Homo sapiens: one gene and its partners. The protein of the gene in region 6 interacts with the protein of the main gene of each other region in a biochemical or structural test. Each region holds a gene or a part of one and is shown on either strand. Other genes may lie near its edges.

Region 1 (3,500 bases), on a different chromosome or scaffold from region 6:
CTAGGAAAACAGACTAGCATTTAATCCAACACCCATGACTTTCCTGGATAATCCCTAAAGAAATAAGAGCAGAGCATACTTCTCAGGAAAGTTGGGCACCATGGAGGCCACGGATGGGGCTGGAGCATGGACTAGGTACCCCTCCCAGGCACACACAAAAGCCACTCCCTGGTACCCTGTTTTTTGTTTGTTTGTTTGTTTGTTTGTTCTGAGACAGAGTCTCACTCTGTCGCCCAGGCTGAGTGCAGTGGCGCCATCTCTGCTCACTGCAACCTCCGCCTCCTGGGTTCAAGCAATTCATCTCCCTCAGCCTTCCGAGTAGCTGGGATTACAGGGGCCCCCTATCATGCCTGGCTAATTTTTGTATATTTAGTAGAGATAAGGTTTCACCATTTTAGCCAAGCTGGTCTCAAACTCCTGACCTCAAGTGATCCACCTGCCCTGGCCTCCCAAAGTGCTGGGATTACAGGCGTGAGCCACCCCGCCTGGCCCCTGGTATCCCTTTCTCATTCCATTTGCCACAGTGGCCTAAGTGTCCCCTGAAGAAGAAGGAATAATCTTTGAAAGTTTCACAAGTTGTGCATCATGCACTTTATGCAATAGGTATATGTAATCAGCAGGAAAAAGGGAAAATAAATTGCTCTGAAGTTTTATAAAAGAGCTCAAGGAATCTTCCCTTTGCATTTTCCCTAGACTTGCCCTTCCCAGTCTCCACCTGAAAGTTATTTCCTTTTTCCACATCTCCACACACAACAAAACCGTGAAATTAGGTAAACTTTCTAACAAGCCTTTTTGAACCGGCTTTTCAAAAGAACTGCCACATGTAAATATATCCTGTCTCACACATTATTGTGCTAAAGAAGAATGTTGAATCCTACAGACTTCCAAGCTGATGTAGTTGCACAGAAAGCAGCGTGTTATACATTACGCTTTTGTACTAAGTCCACTAAGTGAGTCAGGTTTCCTGATTCAGTGCAATCAGGTCCCAGGCTAATGGAGCAGCAGAAGCAGGCAGAGGGTTGTCTGAGGCCAGACCCGCAGCAGGCAGGCTCATGCAGACAGGGGCACCTGGGCTCATCCGAAGCACTACTGCTTCTCCTGGCTGCATGGGAGTCCGGTGATTTTACAGCCCGTTTGGTAGCTAATTCCAGCAAGAGTGAAGGTCTTTGGCAGTTGCCGTCTAGCCTATGCTCTGCTTTTTGTGCTCTACTAAAAACGGTGGCGCTTCTGTCAGAACCTGAGTCCTCATCCTCAGAGTCTGAATTCCTTCTACTGTGAGTGACATGAAGAAAAGAAGGGAAGAGGGAATGAGACAAAGAATTGGAGAAAAACAGAACTACTAAAAATAATGCCGTGCTATGACTATGTATAGAACAGGGCTTTTTAAGATCTAGATCCTCAGGTTTAAATTTAAACAGAAATTCATTTCCATTATATAGGTTCCGCAGATACTAGAGAACTAATTAGACTTTCTCTGTCTCTCTTATTATTATAAAAAACATGCACATAGAACCCCAGCTGGGGTACTGAATGAACACTGGTGTGACAGAAACATGCACAACGACAAACCTGAATCCCTGAAATTCTTTATACCATGGCTTATAAGTTTCCCTTTTTATTCTTTTCCAGTTCACATCTTCTGGGGTCCAACATTTGGGAAGAAACTGATCAAAAGCATTCCCTGGGTTTGGCATGACTGGACTGAGCTTGCGCACATAAAGATCATCCTTTACAATGTTGGGTATGCTTCTTGTCTTTGCTTTTTCCTCTTCCAAATAACAAGAGGACTTTGAAGTTCCTTGTACAGTTGGCCAGTTCTCCACATTGGTGCCCCAAATCCTCCTCTGATTACTGTTCAAAACATCCAACCGGTTAAGACACTGTATGAGCATTTGTGACACAGAACACAAATGGCATGCTTTCTGGTTCACAAAGTTTACACCACTGTGAACAAAGCAAATTAGTTTCCATTCTCATCACCACCACAGCTCCTAGGACAAAGTTATTATAACAGCATCTCATTTTAACTCAAGGATAGCTAGATACACACGGGCCAAAGATACTTCATTAGAAGCTGTGTTAAAAGGAAGAGGCACATAACAAACAATTTGGGGTGTTACTTTCTGAATTAAAATCAGCAGCATAATAGACAGCCAGATCCAGGACAAGTATTTCTGACCTCGTCAGTCCATATAGCCCCATGGCAAACATATCAGCAGGAGAAAATATTTGCGGACAAGAATTAGGATAGGTGATTTTCGAGATGAAATTCTGGGGCCTCTTTTTCACTTGGAATCTACGGTTGGCTAAGTCATCCAAAACTATGTCAGGAAACCTTCGTTCATCCTCAGAGTCCGAACCACTTTCAAAACCGTACGCCTCCCCATGAGAGGAAGCTGGATTTGCAAAACCACACTCTGTTCTGCTAATTTGCTGAGAAATTAAAGGATTCTTTTCATGTCCACTAAGATCAATCAAAAAAGGAAAAACATTACATGGCATGGCTCATCATGAACAATACAAATTATCTGGTAAGCTGAAAAATACCAATAAACTGAAGTCATGCATCTAAAAAAAGACCTAGCAAATCATATGCTGACATTCTAAAACAGAAGAAATGGCTTCAAGATATGTATAACTAAAAATAGAGGGATGAAAAATATTCTCACTAGTCAAGCTTAATATATGATCTATGAAACACATTTAAGAGCCATTCTTTTTACCACATTTAACATCCTACCATATTCGAAAAGCATACGAAACTCAATAATCACACCCATCTCAGTACCTTGAAAATGTTCCATCTGCTTCTGTATAAACCGGGCTTGCCCAACTTCTTCTGTTATCCTCATGTTTGTCTGGCTTTTTCTTTCTCAGAGGTGCTGGTACATAGGATGGCTGTCTACTTTTGTTGGGTAAAAAACGATTGAAGGGTAACGCAGTCTTTGGCTCAACAGCCGAAATCCTTCGATACGACATATCATCTTTATTATAATCCTGCATCTTAAATGTAAATTCCGAATCTGTGTCACTTTCAAAACCTATAAAGAAGGCACAAGAATTTGCTTTACTCTCCAGATTATTCGCCTAACTGAAACCCACACAGCGCGCCTGCTTTGTCTTTCCCTTAGAAACCCAGTGCTGCCACTGCTAACTGCAGGGAATATTTTTAGAAATTTGTCACGAAGTTGTGATAAGATCCATTAGGAGGAACTTGCTTTGCATACTGGAGGCACATGCAGTACATTCTTTTGCTGCTGTAGGCTCTAAGAAGAATAAGTCCTATTTTACTAGTGAGCCCCTTTTTTCTCAATCTCTTCCTCCATGATTTTCCATAAGATTTGTTGATGTAATACATAGAAATAAAATCTAGCAATGGAGTCACAGATACTTAAAACAACATGCAAAAATAATTCTGGGAGAACTCAGTAATTTAAAATAAGGCATGCAGCTATCTATAATATATGTGAGGAGAGAGATCAGGAAGGATGTAGAAAGAG
Region 2 (4,624 bases), on a different chromosome or scaffold from region 6:
CAAATGGCGACCACTCTAATTTTAGGTGGAGAATGCGAGTACCAAGTCCTTCATATTAGAAGCAATGATATAGGCAAGCTAAAACCTTCAAGAGTTCCATGAAGTCCCTTTTGAGTCTGTCTTGATAACTCATTTTCTTTGCATTATGATATACATTTTTACTCACTCAACATTTTGTTCAGGTATCATCATGAGCCTAGTCAGCAGAATGGGTCATTATTTTCCCTCTTTTACTGCAGGGTTGGTACTCACGGTTCCTTTAAGGGCATCCACTTCACAGGTGAGGGACTGCACCTGTCTCCGGTACTCAGTGGACTCCTGCTTTGCCTGGCGCAGGGCGTCATTGTTCCGGTTGGCAGCCTCAGAGAGGTCAGCAAACTGTTGGGAAGAAAACAGAAATGTAGATTGCTCACATTCAAGTCTTTTGACTCTCTTAGAAAAAAAAAATCATATTTCTCACTGAATGTCTTCCAGTATAGGTTTAAATTTCTGTTTTGAAAGCCAGGGAAAGAGCAGTGGAGTACTGACATTAGTATTTTCAGAGTTCACTCTACAGTGCTCATTTCAACACAGTGGAGGTCAAAGGTATGGCATTGGGGTTTACTTGGAGGCAAGGTTAGGGGGAAGAGAGTCTGCTATTCTGAAGGAGGTGATGTGGCCAGGCGTGGTGGCGCATGCCTGTAATCCCAACATTTTGGGAGGCTGAGGAGGGTGGATCACCTGAGGTCAGGAGTTTGAGAGAAGCCTGGTCAACATGGTGAAACCCCATCTCTACTAAAAATACAAAAATTAGCCGGGCATGGTGGTGCTTGCCTGTGGTTCCAGCTCTTAGGGGGCTGAGGCAGGAGAATCACTTGAACCTGGGAGGCGGAGGTTGCAGTGTGCCAAGATGTTGCCACTGCACTCCAGCCTGGGCAGTAGAGCAAGACTCTGTCTCATAAATAAATAAGAAAATAAATAAATAAATAAAGGAGGTGATGTGAGTGGTGGGGAGGCTGTGGTGGCAAACACAATATGAGCAAGAAGTCAAAGCCAGCTTTGCATTGGAGCTAGAGGATATTTAGGAATCACACACAGGTATGGGGTTTTGAGAACACAATGCTTTTCTTTGGTTGAAGCCGCACTGATTTGTTTCCTACCTTGGATTTGTACCATTCTTCTGCCTCCTGCAGGTTCTTGGCAGCCACACTTTCATATTGCTGACGTACGTCACGCAGGGCAGCCGTGAGGTCAGGCTTGGAAACATCCACATCGATTTGGACATGCTGTTCCTGAATCTGAGCCTGCAGCTCCTGGATTTCCTGCAAAAAGAACAGACAGACGGTCAGCTCTGCCAACCGTGGGGGCTGCCTTACCCTCATTCATTCCCCGAAAGTCACTCCACTAACCTCTTCGTGGAGTTTCTTCAAAAAGGCAATCTCTTCTTGCAAAGATTCCACTTTGCGTTCAAGGTCAAGACGTGCCAGAGACGCATTGTCAACATCCTATTTTGAACAGAGAAAAGACAGGACATGGAGGATGTAAAAGTGTATGGCTTATCTCATTTATTTGTCTTAGATTAACCATCTGAACCTAGTCTCCTTACTATAGAAAAGCCGTTGACACATTTTATGACCCTGGAATAGGTTTATAAATCATTCAGTGCTATAATATGCTGTGCTTTCTCCTGCTCACTAATATATTTTAATTGTGACTGCTTGTGTTTTACTCAAGGTGGTGATCAGACAATTTTAAAATAAATAAATGTCCACACACATGGTAAACTGCACTCAATCATGACTGAATCCACATTTTACCAGTGATATTTTAAAATTACTTTTTAAGGCTGGTCATGGTGGCTTATGCCTGTAATCCCAGCACTTTGGGAGGCTGAGACGGGTGGATCACTTGAGGTCAGGAGTTCGAGACCAGCCTAGCCAACATGGCGAAACCCCGTCTCTACCAAAAATACAAAAATTAGCTGGGTGTGGTGGCACATGCCTGTAGTCCCAGCTACTTGGGAGGTTGAGGCAGGAGAATTTCTTCAACCCAGGAGGCAGAGGTTGCAGTGAGCCAACATAGTGCCACTGCACTCCAGCCTGGGCAACAGAGTGACACTCTGTCTCAAAAAATAAAGTAATTCATTTAATTTAATTACTTTTTAAATCTAGAAAATCTATGCCACAACATTTTTAAGATTTGTTTTGTAATTTCATGGAATAACATGATGATAGAGGTGGACAAATTTTCACAACTTCATGTACACTTGAGTACATGGAGAACAGAAACTTGTGCTTCAAGAGTTTTAGCTTTTCTTCTCCACTCAAATCTTTTGAAACTTATCCTTAGGCTCCAAAGCAAATATGTAGTCATCTGGCATCCATTGTACAAGGCTAGATTTATATTCAATAACCCAATTCAGGATATGCATGCCAAAGATTCAGTTCAGGAAAAAATGGAAAAGAAATGTAACTCTGAACTGTATTTGCTTGGCTTTCTCTGGTGGATTTTTCTTCTAAAACTCCTTTGACTCATCCTGTAAAGGCATGTCTTTTTCACTTGCCACTGTATCAGTTCAGTTAGCCTGTTTCAGAATGACTGGTCAAGCTTGCAAAGAATGAAACTACATAAAGGATTTTTGCTGATTCAGCCGTCCTTCTATATTTCCATTTAAAAAGCTCAGCATTCCAAATCAGAATATGTAATCTTGCAACTAAGATTTTATTTCCTCTCAAAAGGATGCGTGAGGATTGCTTATCTTGTCAGCAATTATATTTGGAGTTCATAGCCTTACGGTCTTAAACTGTTGAGACTTTTCTATCACCTTAGTGGAAAAATGAATGAAGAGTGGGTGACAAAAAGATCAGACTTGATGAAAACATTGATTTTTACTTGTTAAGCCCTGAAAAATACATAAAAGATATTTTACTAACCTCCAAAGAAAGATCAATGTGGTATTCTATCACATTGAAGAGAATGAGGAATTTTGCTTAATCTCGAAACAGAGGATCTTTTGTATTGATGTTGTTTTATGTTAACTCACTACACTGCAGAAAACATGACAGGTATGATAATCAAAAATGCTCAAGGACTAAAATGAACCACACACATTGCTGTGGTTAAATTAATTTGGTAAATGTATTTCAGTTTCAAAATGTTATACTACACTATTCATCTGAGAGTGCTTTGCAGTTAATCCCAGTAAATATTCCAGGGAATACAACTATAAACTATAATGGGGATCTTCTGGCTTTTGGATTCCAATTTTAAGTTAAAAATTCTGTAAGTCCATCTAATTTTGGTGAAAAAAAAAAAAAACACGCACAAAAACCCTTTAGTTAAAATTCAGTTTTTCAGCCTTGGGTTTATTACTGTTATTATTTTTTATGGCAAGAGTGCTAAAGAACACAAGAACCCAATCAAGAAAGGACTTTTAAAATGTGAGGTATGCTTGTAGCTTTAAAAACTTTTTACATTACCTACTTCTCAAGTCTGGGCCAGATATTAGATAACGGATGTTAGCAAATACTTGTGTCCAATTAGAACCGTGCTTACATCATTACATATTCAGTAAGAATGTAGCCTGTTGCAAAGCTTCCCTGGGAATACAAAGACTCCTATTATTTCTGTCCAGAGCCACCACATTTGCCAGAATGTCTGTATCTACATTCCATAGTGAAGCCCATAGAAACCATTAATACCCCTTAGCCAAGGGGACAGATGGCTCCTTTTCACCCTTATTAGATCACAAAATAGTTGTGCATAGTGATACTTCCATCGAACTTTAATGACACAATAGAATTTGCAAAGAAGAAAAGAAACTTGCTGGCTCCATTCCAGTTGGAAACTAAGTTTTCTTATCTTCCAACACGTTTTCCATTTTAAACTGCAGGGCATAATTGCGCTTTTTGTGGCCTTGTAAAAATTAAGCAACTTGACTTTGGCAAACCACAATCTAAAATTGTAACCGTTCGAAACCAGAAGGTCAATGTGTTGCAAAACTGTGCAACATTTGGGAAACAAAGTAAAAAGTTAAAAGATTTTTCTTTATGTCCCAAGGAACTGCTTAGAAATCATTCAAGGATCGCTTGAACCCGGGAGGCGGAGGATGCAGTGAGCCAAGATCTCGCCACTGCACTCCAGCCTGGGCGACAGAGTAAGACTCCGTCTCAAAAAAAAAAAAAAAATCGCTCAAGGGGTTTTATTAATATTTTTCTAATCATGAGAAGCTCCAACCTGTGGTCTTCCCGCCACTAGAGGGCTTTACGCGCAGCCCTGAAGTTTTGCACTTTTTAGACGTGAGTTAAGCAACTTTTAGAATTGCTCGTGGGTTGTGTTGGGTGGGGTCAGGCGGCTGCGAGTGGGAAGAGAGTCTACAAACCTGTCTGAAAGATTGCAGGGTGTTTTCGGCTTCCTCTCTCTGAAGCATCTCCTCCTGCAATCTGAAACAGTTGCGCATTAACCAAAGGGGAACGAGGAAACCGCCAGGGGCGGGGCGGCCACACCCAAACACCACGTATTCGCTCTGCGCCTCCAGAGCAGCTGCGCCACCTCCGCGCAACTAGCGCCTGCAGCTTTCAGACCTGCTGCCCTCGGCAGGTTTCAGCGGGACTTCGGGCACCGCGCAGAGGGGCAATCACGGTGG
Region 3 (4,132 bases), on a different chromosome or scaffold from region 6:
CCAAAAAAAAAAATCCTCTTAAGAATACTGAAACTTTGGCCTTCATTTTATTTTGGATACTAAAAAAAAAAAAAAAAAAAAAAAAAAAAGAAGAAGTTGGAAGTAATTATGGAAGAAGTATTAGAGTCTATTGTATGATATGAATTTCAATTGGTCTACTCTTTAACACTTTCTTTAATTTAGAAATTTTGTTTATATGTACATCATTTAAATATGTCTTACAATATGGGCAGGATAAAACTAATATTCAAGATAAAGCATTTACTAATTTTGTTATAAAACATGCTGAACGTTTGAATACACACAATGGTTCACACAGTATTGAATTAAATGACAGATATCTGAACATCATATTTGTATGGAAAAAATGCATCATAACATGGGTCATATCTCATGATAAACTTGGAGCCTGAAAACCAACAGCCCAAGAAGAAAACACTTTAATTGCTTTCACTTTGCTTTTGCTTTCAAAAATAACCAATGTATTGGAATTATATCAGCCTTCATAGACTTTCTAGAGGAAGACAGGAAAGAAGTCTATTTAACAAGAAATGTTCTCTGAGGGGTTAGAACCACAATCCCTCTGGCCTAGTACTCTGCTTGTGACTGGGGAGTCTGTGAGTGTAATTTATGAAGAAAAAGTAATACTCATCGTTATCTAGTCTGAAAATCATCCTAGTTACCCACAGTATCATGTGATGGAGTTCTCACTCTCCTTTTCTGGACATTATATTTTCAGTATACGTCATTAATAGTTCATTATTTATTAAAGTCATTCCCTCACACTTCTCATTCTTGTAATAACTTCCATGTTTCTCTTTTTGAATTTTAGCATTTTCTTCCCAAAAAGAGCTTAGTGAAATCTGCCAACCTAATAGGAAGCATTTATATTTCAAAGAGTTAATTTTTGCCCTTAACCTACCCTAGGCATTATGTCTGAAAGATGGCTCTTCCTACCAAAAATCTTAATCAAACAGGCAGCTGATAAACGAAAATGAAAATTAACTCCTCATCTTTCCCTATCACCAAGTCTTGAATAGGCAGCTTTGAATCCACTTTTTGGTGTGCATCAACCTGTATGGACCTGAAGATACAGACTGTCACATGAGACCAGAGGAACAAAGACTGCTTCCTTCAATCAGAATCCTTCCCAGTGTCAGGCAAAGAAAAGTGACTTCTACAGTCTTTTGGTAATTGAGAACCATATCTCTATGGAGCTAATGTTACAAGTATTTGCCTGCCCTGAAGGGCTGTAGAGTCAAATATCAAACAATTATTTGGAGAAATGAAATGCAACAACACACATTTAAATGTTGCCTATGCCTATACACTCTTGCCTTACCTAGGATACCTGAAGAAATACAGTACTCAGTACATTTTCATATTCCAAGCATGTGTTCTCAGAGAGCTTTTAAAAGTATAGTTCTGTGAACTGCGTATAGGGCATGTGCTTTAAAATATCCATTCACATGATTTACTCACTGGTGAGTAAAGTGCACCTTCCATTCTTGCTGCTGTGAAGTCACCCGGCAAAAATGGAGGACAAGGAGTGAAGGGAGAGCTTATGTGCTATTGCAAGCTTGCTGCAGCATTACACTGCCCTAGACACTGCAGGAAATAAATTCATGTCATTAATTCACTCATTCTGTTTGGAATTCTGTAATTAGAAAGGCAGGAGTACAGTAACTCAACAAAAGGTCTCGTTTGTGCCCAAATGGGCCCCAACAGTGAACCACACTGCATAATGGGGAGGGAAGTACTATCAGAGGGGAAACTAGAAGTGTCTGAAGGGAATGGAATAAGTAAAAATGAAAAAATTGTTCTGCTGAATGAAGCATACAATCATTAGTCTGACTACGCCACAGTACCCAACCCAAGTGACCTGAGTAAGCACAACAAGGCAATGGCAACTACTTCCAAGAGAAAATGGTTAAGGATATAAGGAGAGAATTAGAGGAGAAACGTGTATGTATAAATAAATGTGTGTGTGTGTGTATACATACATTTTGTGGCTTTTGGAAGCACACAACAGAAATAATGAACTATTAAATGTTAGCACCTATAGCTAAATGTTGGGACCACGGTATTAGTGAGAAAATAGGTCCGTCATTTGTAGTTGAGAATTCTGTTCTGCTTGTTACTTTTCTGGAACTCTTAAAATATCCTTTTTATTAATCAAGTTGTATACAATCCAGCATTAACTATACCATCCAAAATGCGTTTTACTAAACATTTTTGAACACAGTTTAGAGGCTTTTTTCCTTCCAATATTCTCTTTACTGGCCATGTCTACATTGATACAATATTCATGTAATAAAATAGTCTCAGATGTATTATGTATGTATAAATCATTCATTTATCTGTTCATTCACCAAATCTTCCTTAATTCCTGTTGGCAATTACTTATGAAATAAAAAGTTAATGATCAAGCCCTGACCCCGAAAAGCTCACAATCTAGTTGCAAAGGCACATGCATGCCCCTCCCCAGACCACAGATGACATCATGACACAATACACCATTCTGAATCTTTGACCTTTAATTCATATCCTACTCAAAGCAAAAAAAAAAAAGTGTTTTCTTTTTATAACTTACTGTCATTAGTCCTATTTATGTTTTAGATGCAATGGAAAACTTTATTCTATATGACAGTTCTTTACATCTTTGGAGACAGTGATTCATTCCCCTTAATCTCACCTCTATAGTTCCTTCAGATCTTTCAGCCTGCTTAGTCCTCCTGTACACCTCGATTTTAATAGTCACTAGCTCTACTCAATGTCCCTGTTAAAATTCAGTGATCATCACTGACCAACATTTTCCTCACTAACTGCCAATTTGAATTATACGCAAATATATTATTCATATAGTCTAGGATTGAGGGGTTTTCATTCTTTTTTAAAAAATTACATTCATATTCTTATTTAGTCCTTATAACAACCCCCTGAAAGTAGTTATTATTTTAATCTCCATTTTAATAAAAGGAAAACGTGACGCTTCAAAAGGCCATGTAAGTTGGTCAAAGTCAGACAGCTCCTAGGCAATACAGCTGAATTTGAAACCCAGGGGGACTGGAATTCAAAGCCTGTGCTCTTAAACACTATGGCAGACTGCAGCCATATTATGCCATTAACTTATCATTGTAAGTGGATAATTATCTCAAAAATTAACATTTTATTTTTACAGTCATGATAATTACATTCTTAGTTATGTTTCCACCACACTTTTATGTGCTTGAACGCAAGGATGTGTGTGTATGTGTATGTACATCTCTGTGACCATAGCTCTGCCTCATATCGTTAATTCTCCTAGCTTTCTGTCATGCTCACACCGAATAAGCCCATCTGCTATGTATTAATACAATTATTAGAACTTTTTTCAGGATAAGGCCTAAACATAGGGCTTTCTGACTCTATCACAAAACACATTACCAACTGCCAGGCCTATTAATTATTCTTTGAGCAAGTCTTAAAAGCAGGCAGTGCTTCCTCCTAGAAGTATTCCTATGTAGCTCATATTTACCATCTTCTCCAAAGGCTATTTTAGGCTATTTTTTTTTTCAAATGCTTTATCATTGAGACACATCAGTTCTTGGTAAGACTCATTCTACCAATCTGGTAATCCTACTTAAAAAAAAGTGCAGTTATTCTGGAATAATACATTTTAAGTAAATTAACATTGACAAATACTGACTTTCAGTCATTTTCTTCTCAGGGCCAAGATTTGTTTTCTAAATATTTGCAAATCATCTATTTAATCATTCATTCATTCTAGAATTTTGTCAAGGATAAATACTGAGCTTCTTGTTGAATAATTTGAGAATCCATTCTTTCCCCCTTTTAGAAATTCTACTTGTCTTAAATACCTTGGTATCTCTCTCATTTTATCGAGCTTCTTGTTGAATAATTTCAGAATCCATTCTTTCCCCCTTTTAGAAGTTCTACTTGTCTTAAATACCTTGGTATCTCTCTCATTTTATCTATGATTTATTAAAAATTACCACGGCTCTAAAAGCACATCTGTTAGTTTCTTCAATATGTAGTGTGTCCAGCTCTGAACATTTACCCATCTCATAGCTGCTATTGAGTGCACTTTTGTGATACTTCCATTTCCCATAGGTGCCAGCTCCCAGCAGAG
Region 4 (4,698 bases), on a different chromosome or scaffold from region 6:
CCACGTTTATCACCTTGATGAAAGAAAGATCCCTGGGACAGGAAAGGAAAAAAAAAATTCCCTAGGTAAGAAGATCTGAGAATAAGAATCAGAGGGAAAAGGATTTCTACAGGGACTTGCAGGCTCACAGCTGCTCTTCCTCCCCTCCTCTGTCACACCCACGTTTATGGAACCAAATGGTAGGAGATTAATTACTCCTTAAAACCAAGATGAAGTACAATTTCCTGAACTTCTAGTAAGTTTGTACCATTTCCTCAGTGCCTGTAGTGTGACAAGTAATGTAGATAAATAGGATAAACAGAATTCAGCCTTCCCATCAGGGGCTAGACTAGGTGACCTGAAGATTTTGCTAAGCCCAAAATTTGGTGAGAAGAATAGGCCCCTTTTGAGGCAGTTAAGACCTGGCCAGAATATGGCACGACGAGCAACGAGGGGAAGGGAAGAGGCAGCAGAAGCACAGACAGAAATGTCTATATACTCCCTGCATCTACCTAATCATGCTTCTCTCAAAGACACTTTCAGACATTGCTTGCTTTGAGGCCAACATGAGATTGTTCTCTTTATAAAAGTCATAAGTGTGGCTGGATGCGGTAGCTCATGCCTGTAATCCTAGCACTTTGGGAGGCCAAGGTGGGTAGATCAGGAGATCAGGAGTTTGAGAACAGCCTGGCCAACATGGTGAATCCCCATCTCTACTAAAAATAAAAAAATTAGCCGGGCGTGGTGGCGGGTGCCTGTAATCCCAGCTACTCAGGAGGCTGAGGCAGGAGAATTGCTTGAACCCAGGAAGGGGGAGGTTGCAGTGAGCCGAGATCGTGCCACTGCACTCCAGCCTGGGCAACAAGAGCGAGAGACTCCATCTCAAAAAAAAAGTCATAAGTGCTTATTTTAAATCAAAAAATCAGAAAAAATGATGGAAGGATGCAAATCACGCATCACCCTACTACCAGAGATAACATATACAAACATACACATGTATATATATGTAGATCTTCTGTATGTTTTTCTAGGTGGGACTTTGTTCCAACTGAAGAATACTTTTATGCCATATCTAGAGGTGGTTTTCAGCCTCTGAATTAAGGGGATTCTGGGAAACCCACTTGAAGGAACTGAAAGGCTCAAAACATTAAACAGACCACTGTATTAAGTGTGCCATGCACATTAAATGTGCCATTTGCTTGGCTGCAGGTCTGTATTATGTGAATAGAGCTGTTAACTGCCCTGAATGCATGCTCTTTCATGAGGCCACATTCTTGCAGATTTCCATGTGTACACCATCTTTCTTCAACATAGACTTGGTTTTGTTATGGCTCATATACCTCACACATGACAAGTTAATCTATAGTCTACACCATACTGCCAACAAATGCTTCCATAGTAACAACAGCTGGCATTGATCAGACATTTCTCTGAGTCAGGCATGTTCTTGAGGGCTTTGCATGTTATATATAGAGAGAGATAGATATAAAAATATGCAATATGTAATATATATGTTATGCTATAATATGCATGATATACACACAAGCATTAATATATGTAAAATATCATATAATATATATAAACTTTAAAAACTGATGACACATCTCCAAAGGGTATCCTACAACACCCCCATTCAGATATGGAGCAGTGATTCTCAACCAGGGATAACTGTGCCCCCCGGGGAACCTCTGACATGTCTGGAGACATTTTGGTTGTCACAGGTTGGAGGTGTTACTGGCATCTAGTGGGCAAAGCCCAGGGAAGCTGCTGAACATCCTACAATGCACAGGACAGGTCCTACAACAAAGAATTACCCAGTTCAAAGTGCCAATAATACTGAGATTGAGGAAATCATGCTCTAGAGACTGGAGAGAAAAAATTGATGATAAAAAACACTTCCAGCCAGGCGCAGTGACTCATACCTGTAATCCCAGCACTTTGGGAGGCCGAGGCGGGTGGATTACTTGAGCTCAGGAGTTCAAGACCAGCCTGGCCAACATGGGGAAACTCTATCTTTACTAAAAAAAAAAAAAAATAGCCGGGCATGGTGGCGCACACCTGTGGTCCCAGCTACTCAGGAGGCTGAGGTGGGAGGATCACCTGAGCCCCGGGGGCAGCAGTTGCAGTGGGCCCTGATTTTGCCACTGCACTCCAGCCTGGGTGACAGAGTGAGACCCTGTCTCAAAACAAAACAAAACCAACCACTTCAATTTTTCATGTACAAGATGCAATCCACATAAAAGCCACAAATCCATACCTTATTTCTCTGGGATGATGTTAACACTGTAGATCTAGATTATCAGAAGGAAGTTAGAGAACTCAGGGAGAAAGGTTATTTTCCCAGATGAGACCTTTGCCTTGGGCCCTTCAAACCATGGCCTTAAACCTTACTTGTCATAGTTGTCTGGGTCAAGAGGTCGGTAGGTAACTTTGTAGCATTCAATTCTCTTCAGGAAGTCCTCCATCACGTTCTCTCTGTTCCTTTCAGGATAGTCAGGGCTTGATACCTTAACCTCCTGAAATCATAGGAACCAGTAAAGGCCTCATCAGAGGTCTGCCCGTAACAGTCCTCCTACAAATAGCCACTGCTAAAAAAAAGAAAAAGAAGTCCATAAATGTCGCCTTTCACTGGAACATTGGCACTCCACTCATTGAGTACCCCCCGCCCCGCCCCGCCCCGTCCTGTGACCCTGGCAACCAAAAAAGTTAAGACAACTGGGGAGTCATGTGCCTGCACTTGGCTGAAGGACAGAGGCAGTCACGCAGCCAAAGCTGCTCCTGGGCCCCAATCCCTTTATGTACTTTCCTGAGAAAACAGAACAGGCTCCAATGTTTCCCTATTACCACTCAGAATAGGGTGCATGACCCCAGTGCCTGACTTGGGACCAGATGGCTCTTCCTCAGATGATCCCAAGTTCCTACGGCTGGGAGAGCACCTGCATAAGACCATGTTCAGATATCTACTCGGTCCAGCAGAGCACAACCCATCCAATGGGGACTGGCTTACATTGTGACCCCACAGGGAATAAGGAGCTCAATGTATAGAACACTGACGAGAACTTTGGACAATTGCTGGGGAGATAACCTTCCTGTAGGTAAGTCCTGAAACGAAGAGTCTGATCTATTCTTTTTTTTTTTTCTTTTTTGAGACATGTTCTCACTCTGTTACCAAGACTGGACTGCAGTGGCACAATCATGGCTCACTGCAGCCTCAACCTCCCTGGACATGTTCTCACTCTGTCACCAAGACTGGACTGCAGTGGCACAATCACGGCTCACTGTGGCCTCAACCTCCCAGGCTAAGGTGATCCTTCTGGGTTCAAGCAATCCACTTGCCTCGGCCTCCCAAAGTGCTGAGCCTACAAGCATGAGCCACCGTGCCCGGCTGATCTATTCCAACATCTAGGTCTCAACATCCAGATAATACCTAGAGCACAGGGCCAAGAATCCTACAACCTAAACCCTGGTTTCAATTCAACAGCTAATTCTTACTTGATTCCTTAAAGCCTCAGTTTCCTCTCCCAAGAGAAGAGTGTAGAAGTACCAGATGGGGCTCTGGCAGATAGAAAAGATCTCTTTGTGATGTTAAACATGTCTATTTCTCTCTTTCATTACGAAAACACCCCTCCCCAACAACACACACACACACACACACACACACACCCCACAACACACACAGCACAAAAGGTGAAGAGGAGATGATATGTAGGGGTGTCACCAACCAGAATATTGGCAGCAATGACATCAGGATCATCACAGACGGATTCCACAAAGAATACCTGGCCATGGAGAGAAGGCAGTGATAAGCAAGTCAAAAATGCCAGGCTGTTAATTAAGAGCACATGCTCATCTACCCCACCCAGCCACCACATCTCCCAGGATTTTCTTCATGAAAGTGGCCCTCAAGTCCTCCTCATAGCTCTTACCACAGCCCCTGGGCCTCAAACATACAGGCTAACAGTCTGAGAAAGGACCTGAATGAAAACACTCAAGGACTGGGGGAATGCTCTGAGAGAAGAGATTCAGATATCCCATCCTGTCCTCACCCACTAGAGTGAGAGATCCATGCCTGTAGCCTGACTCCCCACCTCTACTCATCCCTTTTCCTCCAACATGGAGTCAGATCCTACCTTGAAGGAATTCTGTTCAGCAAAGTTCAAAATCATGTCCCTCCTCTCCCGGGTTGTATTGGTGGCATCAAACACCTGTGAAGAAAGTACACAAGGTAAATGAGCAGGAACAGAGAAACAGAACCCCACCAGGGCAGACTCAAGGTGGGGCTGGGTAGCCAGGCTGCTGCAAGGGTGGGGACCAGAAAGAAGAAGCAGCAGATAAAGCTTACCGCAATCTGACCATTCTCCTCAGTGAGATACGCCTTAACATCTTCCAGCGCCACCAGAGCACACTGTCTGCCATAAGAGCAAATGAAACCAGCAAGGAGAGCTAAGCTCAAACAGTCAGAGACACAAACATTCGGGTGGCTACAGAAGTCACATCCCTGCCCACTTAGTTTCCCACTGTTCAAAACCTTTCTCTAACTAGATCTTTCAACTTTCTCACTGAGGGTTTTCACACCATCCTATAACCCCTTCCTGCCCCTGCCCCAATGCACAGATCTTAGCCCTCTTTAGACTTCTCCTACAAGCACACAGGTATCAATCACCCTGAGCCCTGTTCTTCTGACCACCCAAGCCCAAGGTCACTTGCCCATCAGATAAC
Region 5 (4,698 bases), on a different chromosome or scaffold from region 6:
GTTGTCAAAAAATGTCTTTCAACAGTAGAAAAGTTTGCTTTCAAATTAAAAAACAAAGCACGTATTGCAAACATCGTGTAATGATAAAATTACAGAAAAAAATATATTCAGAATGACCCATGGCATTCACGCCATACCAGAATTTTGCCTGTAACAAAACAGAGAATTTTATCCCAAAAAGTAGGTTAGGTCCATGCTGGCTAAAAACTTCAGTCCCAGACCCAATAAATGAGGATGAAATACATAGTGCATGCTTAACAGACATTGCATATACATCAACAATTCTTTAATGCCCCTCTCTAGGGTTTTGAGGGAAGGAGGGATGAAATGTGGACATGTGCACTCACAAAGGCAGAATTTTCTTCCTATTATAAAAAGTCACACGTGACCCTTTACTATGTTTTGGGCAATAGCCAAGATTTTATCTGTGGGAATCCACCTTTGAAAATCACAACAAAAATCAATAGTAAGTGATTTAATATAAAATATACAAATTTCTCAGTATGAGGACTTTCACAGAAAAGGAAGGAGACAACAATGAAAATGAATTTTCTTAAAAAATAACATTCCCTTATTTTGTCCCTGCTACTCAACACTCAAAAACAAGTCTGTACAAAACTAGGAACACAGAAAAGGACCAGAGAGGATGTTACACTGTAAAGTCTTAGGACCTACTCTAAACTTCTGTCCTCATCAAGACCCTCACCTAGAGACCTGAGGGTTCCCAGGTCCACTGGAGAAAGTAAGTAGTCTCCGATCATCACCCTTGCTTCACCGAAGATGGCCTCAGGTCACTCGCTGTCAAACTTAATAGAATTGACCTGGACAGAGATTGAGCCTCCCCGGTAGCTGCCCCGCTTCTTCTTGGTTTTCTCATGCCGAAAGGACTTGCCTTTGGTGAACTTCAAAACCTGATTGGCTCGCTCTCCCCAGTCTCCGGCTGCACCTCGCTGGTAAGTAGAGAGGGAGATTAACACAGAGGAGGACCATGCTGGAGCCCTGTCACTTTATTCTTTCTACTCCCTGCTCAAGGAAACCTGAACCCAGAGAAGATTCCCACCAACCTGAACCAAGAATTGTCCTCTCTGACACTACCCATCCTCCCTCCCAAGAATGGCACAGATCTCTCTCTCACCTTGGCATCAAAGGAGTTGTCCGCAACTCGTGAATCCACCTCAATTTCCTCCTCCCTGACCCTTCGGAATGGGGATGATGCCCTTTTTTCTCCCTACAGAAGAATGAAGTAGGAAATTAAAGACAGAGTGGTCATGTAACAGTTCTCCTGAGTGATACACATGGGCACATGTACCAGGTCACGCCAGGCAGAGCTGTCAAGATGATCCTAGATTTTTCTACTTTTAAAGAGCTGGCTCCTGAGAAGAAAGTGAGACAACTTACTTTCTTCCTTTTTGGAAATGTGTTAGGGGTCTGAAGCTTTATCTTCTTGGCCTGAGGAGTCTCTGCCTCCTTGGCAGCCTCATTCTGCTTCCGCTTCTTTAATGAACCTACAAAACAAAAAGCCAGACTCAGGCCGAGTACAGTGGCTCACAACTGTAACCCCAGCATTTTGGGAGTCCAAGGTAGGAGGATCGCTTGAGCCCAGGAAATTCAGATCAGCCTGGGCAATATAGTGAGATTCTGTCTCTATAAAAAGTTAAAAAAATGAGCCAGACATGGTGGTGCATGCTTGTAGTCCCGGCTACTCAGGAGGCTGGGGTGGAAAGATCACCTGAGTCCATGAGGTTAAGGCTGCACAAGCCGTGATCATGCCATTGCACCCTGGTCTGGGTGACACAGTGAGACTCTAATAAAAAAAAAAAAAGGTAACCAGTTTCCTGTTCTTCCTCCCAGTTTCCACAACTGGAAGCCCAGTGGTGGGCCTCCTCTCACTACCCTACTCTCAAAGAGTATATCCCATCCTGATTTGGGGGGACAAAACCCAGAGGGCATGTTCATTGGGTACAGACCTGATTTGGAAACTACCACTGCCGCCTTTTTCTTTTCTTCTTCCTCCTCCTCACTGTTCTTAGCTGCTTTTCCATTCTGGGCAGTCAGTGCAGAGGTGCCATTGGCCTTGGGGGCTTGTGGTCTTGGAGAGCCCTTGCCCTTGAGCTTCTCTTCCTCTTCCTCACTGGAGTCATCAGAAGAAGAACTGTTGCTGCTCTCAGCCTTTCCTTTCTTTGCAGAGGCTGGCTTGGAAGGGGCTGCACCTCCTGCTACCTTCTGTGGCTTCTTCTTAACTGCAGACTTAGATGTCTTCTCTTCCTCCTCCTCACTGCTGGAGCTGTCTGAATCAGAGCTGCTGTCCCTACTACCCTGAGGAGCCTGCTTGGCAGGCAGAGATAGAGCTGCTTTGGCAGTCGCCTTGGGCTTAGTGGTGGCCACCATCTTCTTTGTCTTCTCCTCCTCACTGGAGCTGCTCTCTTCCTCACTGGAGCTGCTGTCAGCCTTTCTCGTCAGAAGCTTCTGGCCACCGCCCACAGGTTGCTTGGGGGCTGCAGCTGGCTTCACTGCAGGTGACTTGGTGGTGACAGCTGGCTTATTTGAAGAATTCTTGGTGGTACCAGCTGGCTTAGAAGGAGCTTCATCATCCTCAGAGCTGTCAGAGTCTAGACACAGAAGGGATGGAATCAACAGCTCCCCAAATTGGATTCAGGGGAGCCCTTAGCAGCTGCCTGAGAGCATCTCACTGAACTGAGGGCCTCCATATGCCTTACCTGAGCTGTCTGAAGAGCTCTCTGCTGCTTTCTTTGCTGGAGGTGGTTTAGTGGTTGCTTTAGAGACTACTGCCTTAGTTGGGGGTTTCTTCTCTTCTTCAGAACTTGAATCTGAGGAGAACCTGTAGCATTATGCTGGGTCCAGAGTCCCAACCCAACCAGGACAGCAATAAAAAGAATGCAAAGACACGCACAGAGCCTTAGCTCTGTCTTGCTTTAAGCAAAAAGCAACCGAAGGATGGAAGGCTTTCTCTCTCCCTTATTCCTCATCCCCTCCTCCAGACCCACGCTGAGGGGAGGCTGCATCCCTCTGACTCACCAGACTCATCACTGCTGTCTTCACTGCTTTCCACAGGCTGCTGCTTCTCCACAGCCTTCTTGGGAGGCTGGGTTCCCAGAGACTTCTTTGGTGGGGGAGCAGAAGGCGGGGGGACTGAACTGTAGGGACCTGTTTAAAAAGGATAGTGTGATGGTTTTAGGATATGTCTACAACTTTTTTTGATACTACTTTCTTGTAGAAATGAAGCTTAATTCCCCTTCACTTGAGTATGGGCCAGAATCAATGACTCAGTTCTAACAGAACATGGTGTCACCTCTGAGTCTAGGTTACACAAGGCACTGGAGATTTCTCCTTGCTTTCCTGGATCACTAGTGCTCGGAGAAGCTAGCTGTCATGTCATGAGGACGCTCATGCACCTCTATGGAGAGGTCCATGTGGTTACTGCAGCTGGGCCCTGACCACAGTCACACAGCTTCGCTCCCCATGTCCAGTCACCTGGTTTATTTTTCATGGGTTTTTTTTGCTCCTCTTCCTCGTCACTGGAGGAATCCTCACTGCTAGAACTCTTCCGGGTAGGGGTGGTAGCTGCTTTCACTGGGGCCTTGGCCACAACTTGCTTTTTAGGTACAGTCTGCATTAGAAAGAAAATTGATTACCACAGGAAAATGCTGACCCAACCAATCCTGCCAGGGAAGGAAGACACACACACATCACACCCTGGTCACCTCTGCCCTGACAGAAGTTATGGTCCAGACCTTCTTGGGGGTGGCTGCTGCCTTCTCCTCCTCTGAGTCATCACTGCTACTGCTGCTGCTGCTGCTACTGCTGCTACTGGCTGCTTTACCATTGGCTATTTTAGGTGCTGCTCGAGCTGGAATACCCAAGAAAAAGAAAGAGTAAGGAGTATTAGGGCAAGTCAGGACCATGAAAAACCTCCTTCCTATGAGCAGAGAACTTAGGAGTCCACCATTTTTTTTTTTTTTTTTTTTTTTTTTTTTGGAGACGGAGTCTGGCTCTGGCTCTGTTGCACAGGCTAGTGTGCAGTGGTTCAGGCAACTCTCCCGCCTCAGCCTCTGGAGTAGCTGGGATTACAGGTGCCCACCACCATGCCCAGCTAATTTTTATATTTTTAGTAGACACAGGGTTTCGCCATGTTGGCCAGGCTGGTCTTGAACTCCTGACCTCAAGCAATCCGCCCGCCTCAGCCTCCCAAAGTGCTGGGATTATAGGTGTGAGCCACTGTGCCTGGCCAGGAGTCCACCAATTCTTTCAACTTTAGAGCAGCCATCGAGGAGAATGCCAGCCATGGTTTACCACATCAAAGGATACCTTTCCTATCCCATGGCAGGAATAAAACTGTCTTCTTAGAAAAGATGACATAAATAATCTCAATACGCCCTCTAAAATCTTTCACTTCAACCTCCATTCAGAGAAATAACCTAACCCTCATCACAAGTTACAGAAAAAAAGAAAAATTCTCATTTGTCTCATAGAATGAACATACAAGAGTAAAAATGGCAGTGAAAAGCACAACAAATAGATATTTAAGTGATTACAGTGGAATGGGATGTGTGAAAACATAAAATGTCTATGAAATGTCACAAAATACCAAATGGATACCATTAAAAAAAATACACATTTTTTCTTGCTGCAATAACTTTCTCTATTTACTAGCTCCTATGAAATCTTGTTATTTATTAG
Region 6 (4,698 bases):
GCCTTGGATTAGTCCATAAATAAAATGAGCTGTATTAAGTTGTATTGGATTGTGTCATGCTGTCCTTTGGCTTCTTCCTAACGTGTTGATATCTTACCTGAACCTCTTGTCTAGCTAGACTTGTCATTTTTCCCCTTGTCATTATTGTGTGTATGCTGTTCAAACTCTACAGTTCACCTTACTGAAACTTATTCAGTGGGTCCTATTTTTTGTTTGGTTTGATTTGATTTGTTTTTATTTTTGAGACAGAGTCTGGCTCTGTGGCCTAGGCTGGAGTGCAGTTGCGCCATCTGGGCTCACTGCAACCTCCACCTCCCGGGCTCGAGCCATCCTCCCACCTCAGCATCCGGAGTAGCTGGGACTACAGGCACTTGCCACTATGCCTGGCTAATTTTTGTATTTTTTGTAGAGATGAAGTTTTGCCATGTTGCCCAGGCTGGTCTTGAACTCCTGAGCTCAAGCAATCCACCCAGAGTGCTGAGATTACAGGCGTGAACCACTGTGTCTGGCCGGGTCCTATATTTTCAAAGTGCCACTTCTTCATAGTTGTCTCCAAAGCCCTGAGCTCTTTTAAAGACTTCGCACAGACTGCAATTATATTGAAATCTATTAGATGCAGTGAAAATTGATGAACGGCAAATCTCCTCCCCTCCTTCATAGTAGCTTGGCATATGTGGTTCAGACTTTTTAAATTTAATTTTATTTATTTATTTATTTATTTTGTTGAGACAGAGTTTTGCTCTTGTTGCCCAGGCTAGAGTGCAGTGGCGCAATCTTGGTTCACCTCAACCTCTGCCTCCGGGTTCAAGCAATTCTCCTGTGTCAGCCTCACAAGTAGTTGGGATTACAGGCATGCACCACCACACCCGGCTAATTTTGTATTTTTAGTAGAGACGAGGTTTCTCCGTGTTGGTCAGGTTGGTCTCAAACTCCCGACCTCAGGTGATCCTCCCGCCTCGGCTTCCCAAAGTGCTGGGATTATAGGCGTGAGCCACTGCACCCGGCCGTGGTTCAGACTTTTAATGCAGTGGTGAACACTGTCAACAATTTTTCTCCAAACAACCCCTGGGAAGAAGATCGTTGTTGCATGCTTTATGCTAGGATTTACTTAAGTTCTCGAAGTGGAATTTCCAAATCAAAAGATGTGCGGTTTTTTCCAGATAGCCTTCTGAAAAGGTATGTGTATACACTGTCATCAGCAGTGGTTGAGAAGGTCATTCATTTCCCCTAACCCTTTCCAGCACAAGCAAGTTTTTAAGGCTAACAAAAATCTGGTGACCAGAAGGTTTAACGTCTTATCTCCTTGTTCAGTATTGGATGTATGAGGACCACCTCCCTTCTCACAAAGGACTGCTTAAGAAAACTAGTATTTTTAAGTCTCATGTAGTTTCATTTAGAACATGATACCATAGCATGGGATTAGTTCAGTCAAGGTGTTGCTTTGGCAGTTGGGAAATCTGGTTGGCTATGGTAATGTTCTCTATTTTTATCATTAAGACCAGTTTTTGTATTTAACACTAATCCTTTCCAAATGGCAACAGAAAACGTATCTGAATTCATACCACTGACTTTCTGGATATCAGGGAGGTGGTAGAGAGACATCATTTAAAAGATGTGAAGAGAAGCAAAGTTTATCCATTGCTACTTTAATTAAACTCTTAATCCATAGATAAGTCAGTGATAAATATGATAAATTACTAGATTTGAAACTATTGTTTGCATATTGAGTATTTAAAGACAAAATGATGATAATACCTAGGACTTCAGAGTAATTGGGGGAATACAGATGAAACAGGAGTGTCTATGAATTAATATAGTTGCAGCTGGCTTTAATTGGAATTCATTGTACTATTCTTTGTTCTCCTGTGTACCTTTAAAATTCCCTATTATAAGTTTTTCCTCCCCTAGAAATTCCACTCTTAGGTGTTTACGCAAGAGGGAATGATGCATGGGGCCAAGGCGCATAGGTACAAAAATGTTAATAACAGCTTTATTCTAAGAGCAGAAAACTAGAAATAATCCACTAGTAGGAAAATTGATAAACACTGATGTATTCATAAATGGAATACTATTCAGCATTAAAATGAATGGACCACTGATACTACAATATGATTGAATTTCAAAAACATGCTAGGTGAAAGAAACTTTGCATGAAAAAGTACATAGTGTATGTGATTCCATTTATATGAAATTTTAGAACAAACACAACCTGTTTATGGTAGGAAAAAAAATCAGGAATAATGGCCTCTGTGGGAGAATAGGCAGAGATTGGGAAGGGGCAGGCTTCTGGGATAATTGTATTTTTTTTTTTTTTTAATACTTTAAGTTCTGGGATACAAGTGCAGGACGTGCAGGTTTCTTTCATAGGTATACATGTGCCATGGTGGTTTGCTGCACCCATCAGCCCGTCATCTACATTAGGTATTTCTCCAATGCTATTCCTCCCCTAGCCCCCGACGCCCTGACAGTCCCCGCTGTGTGATGTTCCCCTCCTTGTGTCCATGTGTTCTCATTGTTCAACTCCCACTTGTAAGTGAAAACATGCGGTGCTTGGTTTTCTGTTCCTGTGTTAGTTTGCTGAGAATGATGGTTTCCAGCTTCATCTATGTCCTTGCAAAGGACATGAACTCATCCTTTTTATGGTTGCATAGTATTCCATGGTGTATATATGCCACATTTTCTTGATCCAGTTTATCGTTGATGGGCATTTGGGTTGGTTCCAAGTCTTTGCTATTGTGAATAGTGCTGCAATAAACGTATGTGTGCATGTGTCTTTATAGTAGAATGGATAATTGTATTCTTTAGTTGATATGGGTTTGGGTTTTATACATTTGTCAAAACTCAGCAAATGTACACCCAAGATTTGTGCATTTTGTATGTAAATTTTGCTTTGAAAAAAAACTAGTGATATGCCTGTACTTATGTCTTCAGCTTGTAACTGCTAGAAATGTATGGGTATCTGAAAAAGCAAGTATGGCAAAAGGTTAATGGTAAGATCCAGGTGGTGGATATGTGGGGGTGTTCACTGTAATTGTTGGTTGCCATGTATTGGGGGTTATGATATTTCACATCACTGGTTGAGTGTCTTTAATACATATAGCAAGAAGATAGTGTGTAGCCTGTGTCTTGTTATCCTCAAGATACGAGAATGTATAGAACGGTATTGATCCCCACTTAGGAGACATCACTGGCACCATCACTTTTTTGTTTGGGTGATGAGTGCTAAGTAGATTGATGGAGTTACCAGATGCTGTGTAAGACGTCTTAATTGGCCATACTCTGGGACAGTGGTTCACAAATTTGATCTCAGGACCCCTTTTTAGAAAATAAAATAACTTTAACAAAAAATTGAATGAGAATAGCGGCATTGCATTTCATTCAACCTATTGTAGTATTCCACCTCCTGTAGCTTCTGGAAAACTCCACTTGTGAGAAAATGACAGTGGAAAAAAAGCAAATATCTTAGACTTATGAAAGTGGTTTTACTTTGTCTCCTCTCCACCCCACAAAGGATATAGGGGAGACCTCTAGGGGTTCCCAGACTATACTTTGCCCTATGAGAATTTAATTACTGAAGTTAATAGTAGAACTGCTGTTCTACGAGAATTTTATTACTGTGTTTGGGTGATTGAGCAGTTTATTTTCTGAGTAGTCATCATATGTGGTGATAATGGAATTTGTAAAACCTTCCCCACCCTTCCCATTTCTCTGCCCCTGCACCCCATCTTATCCCTAGGAATATAGGTTTGAAGACCAGGAAAATCACAGATGTGATAATGAAGAAAGGAGAATAGTTGATATTAGACATTGGGTAATAAAAGTCCCTGTTAATTCCTGGAAACCAGCTAAAGATCTGGTATGTTGGAATGTCTTTCTGCTTTCTTGTGTTGAGAAGGATAATATGAAGTTAATAATCTCTTAACTTGCCCCTCCCAATACCTGACCAAAAAGCAGAGTTGACATCCATGAAAAATATGGATAATGGTCTTTCAGAGCTGGTTGCATTTAAGTTTTAAAAATACACAGCTTTTGGAGGCAGTAAGTCAGGTTAGCTGTTAACCAGCATTGGTCAAAGTATTTATCAGTGAAACTTGTCTTCATACCAACCTTTGATTGTCAGTTTACATGTTTTTCTATCCAGATGAGTAGTATTTCATGATCTCTTTGTCATCTGGATTTTTACTACAGTATCCAGTTGGGTTTGGCACAGTGTGGTACTAAATACATATTCTGTACGATACTCTTCATTTGAACATTCTGTCTCCTGTACCTTTGCTACAGGCTTTACTTAGAGAAATGGAAAAATAATGGTGCAAGTGGTGAGACCATGATGATAAGAACTTACATAAATTTAAATGCTTTCTTAAAGGATGGTCATAGATTGTGAACGTCATGTCGCGGTGATTGGAGGAAATAAATGGAGAAGTGTGTGAAAATGCTTTAAAGCCATAAGCTATATGGATCATCAGATTAGACATTTTATTCCTGAATAACTCTTACTGCTGTTGTTCTTCAATAATTAGTACTCCATTTTCCCTCTTGTTTTGTACATTCCACCAAACATTACTTGAATGCAGCTCACAGGATTTTTGCTCTTAAAAGCTACAGTTGTTAAACCTCTGCAGTTAAACATATTTATACTAGGTGTTCTGATCTTTCAGCCTGGTACTGTTTCCAGTCATTTGGGAATATACTTTT
Region 7 (4,698 bases), on a different chromosome or scaffold from region 6:
TGAGTATGCCATTTTGCTAAAAGGGAACATTTGTGTTGAGAAACAGTCTGAAATAAGTTGGAAAAGGTAGTTTAGAGACATCTTATGGAAATCCTTAAGTATCAGATTGAGGAATTAATTGTACCTTATTCTATAGGTAATGAAGGGGGTGGCAATAACGGTGTCTGAGTAGAAGAGTGTCAGGATCGAAGCGGTGTGTGAGAAAGATGACTACAATATTTTGATTATTACTTTTAGTTCAAGTTAAAGCAGAAAGATTTTGGTGAATATTAAATGATGATAAAATGATAATTTTGTTTTAAATTACTATGTATCAGATACTCTTGAGTGTCTCATAAAGCACTCTTCTGAGTGTTCATTTAATCTTAACATCACCTACAACACTTCAAAGTAGTTATTGTTACTATTCCCATTTCCTTAAATGAGGAAACTGAGGCAAAGGCCAGTAATTTGAATAAAGTTAACACATAGTTCTAAATGGCAGAATTGGTATTTAAACCTAGGTAATCTAATTCCCATGCCAGAACTCATTAATCACTGTTACATTATGGCTCTTTAAAATAATATCTCCTTAAAAGTATATACTTATCAATACATCTTGCATTAACAGTTACATTCTTTCAAAATTATAAATGTCAGTGACATCTGTATATATTTACCACATGTCAATCTGTGTTGAGTACTCCGAGGAACCAAGAAGCACATCAGGTGGCCGGTACCATAGTGTGACAACTTCATTTGAGTAGGTCTTTGTGGGAACTGACTTGGCTCGGGCTAGTCCTTCATAGGGAAAATAAAACAAAGGGTTAAGAAAAAGCTTTAATGGATCTCTCAGACCCTATTCTCACCATGACTCCATTCAAAGGGATGCCTGAAATGGTTAATTCGTAGCTTCTTGAGGCTTCACCACTATTAACTTTATGAATTCGTTGAGTGCATGTGGCCCTAAGTAAGCAAATCCTTACATAGTTGAACTAAACAAGAATTCCACAACCAGAGACTGTGCTTACTTTTATGTTTGAATACACCTGGTGAAGTATTCTGGGTGAATCTAAACTTAAGATGTTTTCCTTCTGTCCATGAATCATGATGACAAAATTATTTCTCAGCTGCAATTAAATTAATCCATAATAGGCCAATGACATTGAGATACACAATTTTACTTCTAACGGCTATGAGCTTTTGTCACCTTTTAACCTGATTCCAACTTTCATTTGCTATACCATTTTTTATCAAAAACTGTAAAGTTATTGGTCCATAATCTCATTGAGATTTACTGACAAATCGACTTAGAGACAATTTCCTTGGAATAAAATTACAGTGCTGTTCTGTACTCCCTTTTTAGGTTGTAAGTTACATGGATCATTCTGGAGTAAGACAGACTTCATTGTCCTTGGATATTATTAATTGCTGTTTACGTCAGGGGTGTCCAATCTTTTAGCTTCCCTGGGCTACAATGGAAGAACTGTCTTAAGCCACACATAAAATACACTAACACTAACAACAGCCATGACCTTTAAAAAAAAAAATCGCAAAAAAATCTCATAATGTTTTAAGAAAGTTTACGAATTTGTGTTGGGCTGCATTCAAAGCCATCCTGGGCCATATATGGCCCATGGGCCATGGGTTGGACAAGCTTGCTGTAAGTGATATAAAACATTTGCCATTCCTTTGCTAATTTAATATGGAATCTATTGATAATCCAGAAATAAAGGCTAGAGTTTACAACTTTATCTCTTGAGTCACTAGTGTGAGAGAGTCGCTATTACCTCGAAGCCTCTAAATTATGATCTGAAGAAGCAACTTTAAAAAATATCTGGAAAATTACAAATTTATTTTGCCAAAACAAGGAAGAATTTATTTTTTAGGCTGAGATTGCTGTTATATATAACTTGGTATATCTGATTAAAATATTAAAGAAAAATGTCACAAAAGAAAAAATCAATTTTACTGAATAAGGTTACAGAAACAATGTCAGAAATTTAATTAGGCAGGACTCATATACTATTTCAGTTCAGTATAATGGTGAAAGGTTATAACTGGAACAATGTTGACATTCCTTCATTTAATTACAAGTTTTACTCTAGCATCTCAACTTGGTGAAGTAAGTCCAACAAATTATTTTCATACCAATTTTGGTAATTAATTAACAAGATGGAGGTAGCTTTCTGACCTCTCTTCTTGATATTAAAAGTGGGTTATAGGAAGGCAAAGGACAGGGCTGCAAACGTGCTTATCCTGTAACATACCATATCAAGGCAAATTACCAGTTATAGTTTCCTCAGTATCCTACTCTCCCACTCCTGAGAGGATTCCGAACTATGGTGTTTGTGTACATGGCCTTCTAGTTCACAATTAGAATTTCAATACTGGTTGGAATGAAATGAAACAATCTCTCCTAAACAAAATTAATTAAATGTGATATGGTATTATTATATAAGCCATTTTCTATCATTAGTGAAAATATCTGTCTATATCACTAGTTCCTAGACTTCTGATTTTCACTGATCGTGGGAAAAGGGTAGAATTTTCAGAGGGACAGAGAACAACTTATAGTATAAATACTCAAAGTTATATGACCCTCCTTCACAAGAAGTCATATTTACTATGCAACCAAAAAAAAAAAAAAAAAGGAAGAAATAGAGACAGAATTGAATATACTATCTCATGGAATAATCAGAATTTCTTGTTGCCTTGTGGGTAAAATTTGCCTGGCTTGCATTGTAGAGGTTGGAAGCAAAATTTAAAGCACTCAGAGTATTCCCTGATAAAAGTAGTTGTTGTTTTTTTCTTCCTCTTTTTGAGACAGGGTCTTGTTCTGTCAACCAGGCTAGAATGAAATGGCTTGATCATGACTCGCTGAAGCCTCAACCTCCCGGGCACAACTGATCCTACCATCTCAGCCTCCCAACTGGCTGGGACTAGAGGTGCACACCGCCACACCTGGCTAATTTTGAAATTTTTTATAGAGGCAGGTTTTTGCCATATTGCCCAGACTGGTCTTGAACTCCTGAGCTCAAGCAATCTGCCTGCTGGGCCTTCCAAAGTGCTGGGATTACAGGTGTCAGCAACCGCACCCAGCCAAAGGTAAATTTTTTATAGTCCTTGACATTCCTTTTGCTTTTTTTTTTTTTTTTTTTTGAGATGAAGTCTCGCTCTGTCATGCAGTGGCATGATCTTGGCTCACTGCAACCTCCGCCTCCCGGGTTCAAGCAATTCTCCTGCCTAAACTTCCCAAATAGCTGGGATTACAGGTGTCCGCCACAATGCCCAGCTAACTTTTCTATTTTGAGTAGAGACAGGGTTTCACCATGTTGGTCAGGCTGGTTTTGAACTCCTGACCTCATCTGATCCACCCGCCTTAGCATCCTGAAGTATTTCTCTTCACTGCCATTCATTTTGGGATTGGGAATAAAGAGCATTACATGCAGGTTAGCAAACAAAGAGAAGGAGAAGGAAAAAGAGTGAAAAGGAAATAGTGGCTGGGGGAAGGAAAGAGAAAGAAAAAAGAGAGAGAGAGTAACAATTATTATAAGGGAAATAACAACATAAACTATGCCCAAGAAGAGACTTTATGAAAGCATATGTAAATAGCATATAATTTGTTATTCAAACACAGGTAACCCACACATTTCCTTTTTAAGGAAGGAAATGCAAAAAGTAATTTACTCTTCAAATGGCAAAGTATTAAACGAGCAAAAGTATAGGAATTTCCAGAATAAACTCACCATTTAATGACAGTGAAGAGTAATACTTGAAACACTCATATTTATTAAATTTAATGAAATACTCCAAACATAAAACTACCATAATCAAAGCCAGGTGTGATGGCTCACACCTGTAATCCCAGCATTTTGGGAGGCCAAGGCAGGCAGATTGCTTGAGGCCAGGAGTTCGAGACCAGCCTGAACAACATGGTGAAACCCCATCTCTACTAAAAATACAAAAATTAGCTGGGCGTGGTGGGCACCCCTGTAATTGCAGCTATTTGGGAGGCTGAGGCACCAGAATCGCTTGAACCCAGAAGGCGAAGGTTGTAGTGAGCTGAGATTGCACCACTAGACTTCAGCCAGGGTGACAGAGCAAGACCCTGTCTCAAAACAAACAACCAAAAAACTACCATAATCATTTATGAAAAAAAATTATGAATTTAGTTATGGAAAACTGCATGGGTTTTTAAAAACTAAGTTCTCTAAGAGTATTCAAACTCTCAGAATGCGGAATACAAAAAATTCAAAGCTGCTCTACAAAGTTCCTTCAATATGAAAAAGTTTACTTTCTAGAAGCAAAAAGAGCATTTAATTTTACTTTCAATTCCCTTAAAACCAGATTAGCTAAAAAAAAAATAGATAAATAGCTACAATTAAATTACTGAGCATATAATAAATACAGAGTAATGGTGGCAGGTATATTAAGGGAACGCCTTTCAGTAGTTGCTTCTAAACTCATTGTTCTCAAGACCCATTTTATACTCTTGAAAATTATCAAAGACCTAAAGAGCTTTTATTTTTGTGGATATATTTACTGATATTTGCCACATTAGAAATTAAAACTTAGCAAATTTTAAAATATTATTTTCTCTTTAAAAACACCACCCTTTATATGCAGCATGTATGACATTTTTATGAAAAACATTTTTTTTATAAAAACAAAACAGTAAGAAGAATGGCCTTCTTTCACATTTTTGTAAATCTCTTT

Evidence for each region.
Region 1: the proteins of YWHAQ (region 6) and LMO7 form a complex in vitro, tested with the Homo sapiens proteins (one large-scale study listed by BioGRID).
Region 2: the proteins of YWHAQ (region 6) and VIM form a complex in vitro, tested with the Homo sapiens proteins (one large-scale study listed by BioGRID).
Region 3: the proteins of YWHAQ (region 6) and PRKD1 form a complex in vitro, tested with the Homo sapiens proteins (2 studies listed by BioGRID).
Region 4: the proteins of YWHAQ (region 6) and PFKFB2 form a complex in vitro, tested with the Homo sapiens proteins (one study listed by BioGRID).
Region 5: the proteins of YWHAQ (region 6) and NOLC1 form a complex in vitro, tested with the Homo sapiens proteins (one large-scale study listed by BioGRID).
Region 7: the proteins of YWHAQ (region 6) and CDK17 form a complex in vitro, tested with the Homo sapiens proteins (one study listed by BioGRID).

The regions. Positions count from the first base shown.
Region 1 is NC_000013.11:75,803,830-75,807,329, reverse strand, and holds part of LMO7 (LIM domain only protein 7), read right to left. Parts: intron 3,042-3,500; coding exon 2,789-3,041; intron 1,852-2,788; coding exon 1,570-1,851; intron 1,273-1,569; coding exon of another isoform or gene 1,069-1,272; intron 1-1,068.
Region 2 is NC_000010.11:17,230,447-17,235,070, reverse strand, and holds part of VIM (vimentin), read right to left. Parts: intron 4,422-4,624; coding exon 4,361-4,421; intron 1,485-4,360; coding exon 1,389-1,484; intron 1,302-1,388; coding exon 1,140-1,301; intron 379-1,139; coding exon 253-378; intron 1-252. UniProt on the Homo sapiens protein: Vimentins are class-III intermediate filaments found in various non-epithelial cells, especially mesenchymal cells. Vimentin is attached to the nucleus, endoplasmic reticulum, and mitochondria, either laterally or terminally.
Region 3 is NC_000014.9:29,578,483-29,582,614, forward strand, and holds part of PRKD1 (serine/threonine-protein kinase D1), read right to left. Parts: intron 1,609-4,132; exon of another isoform or gene 1,483-1,608; intron 1-1,482.
Region 4 is NC_000001.11:207,062,833-207,067,530, reverse strand, and holds part of PFKFB2 (6-phosphofructo-2-kinase/fructose-2,6-bisphosphatase 2), read right to left. Parts: intron 4,389-4,698; coding exon 4,322-4,388; intron 4,185-4,321; coding exon 4,110-4,184; intron 3,759-4,109; coding exon 3,702-3,758; intron 2,496-3,701; coding exon 2,371-2,495; intron 2,355-2,370; exon of another isoform or gene 2,237-2,354; intron 33-2,236; coding exon 1-32. UniProt on the Homo sapiens protein: Synthesis and degradation of fructose 2,6-bisphosphate.
Region 5 is NC_000010.11:102,158,363-102,163,060, reverse strand, and holds part of NOLC1 (nucleolar and coiled-body phosphoprotein 1), read right to left. Parts: intron 3,869-4,698; coding exon 3,753-3,868; coding exon of another isoform or gene 3,723-3,752; intron 3,629-3,722; coding exon 3,493-3,628; intron 3,166-3,492; coding exon 3,037-3,165; intron 2,829-3,036; coding exon 2,718-2,828; intron 2,610-2,717; coding exon 1,968-2,609; intron 1,506-1,967; coding exon 1,399-1,505; intron 1,229-1,398; coding exon 1,136-1,228; intron 951-1,135; coding exon 792-950; 3' UTR 1-791. UniProt on the Homo sapiens protein: Nucleolar protein that acts as a regulator of RNA polymerase I by connecting RNA polymerase I with enzymes responsible for ribosomal processing and modification.
Region 6 is NC_000002.12:9,619,800-9,624,497, reverse strand, and holds part of YWHAQ (14-3-3 protein theta), read left to right. Parts: intron 1-4,698. UniProt on the Homo sapiens protein: Adapter protein implicated in the regulation of a large spectrum of both general and specialized signaling pathways. Binds to a large number of partners, usually by recognition of a phosphoserine or phosphothreonine motif.
Region 7 is NC_000012.12:96,288,508-96,293,205, forward strand, and holds part of CDK17 (cyclin-dependent kinase 17), read right to left. Parts: intron 781-4,698; coding exon 660-780; intron 1-659. UniProt on the Homo sapiens protein: May play a role in terminally differentiated neurons. Has a Ser/Thr-phosphorylating activity for histone H1.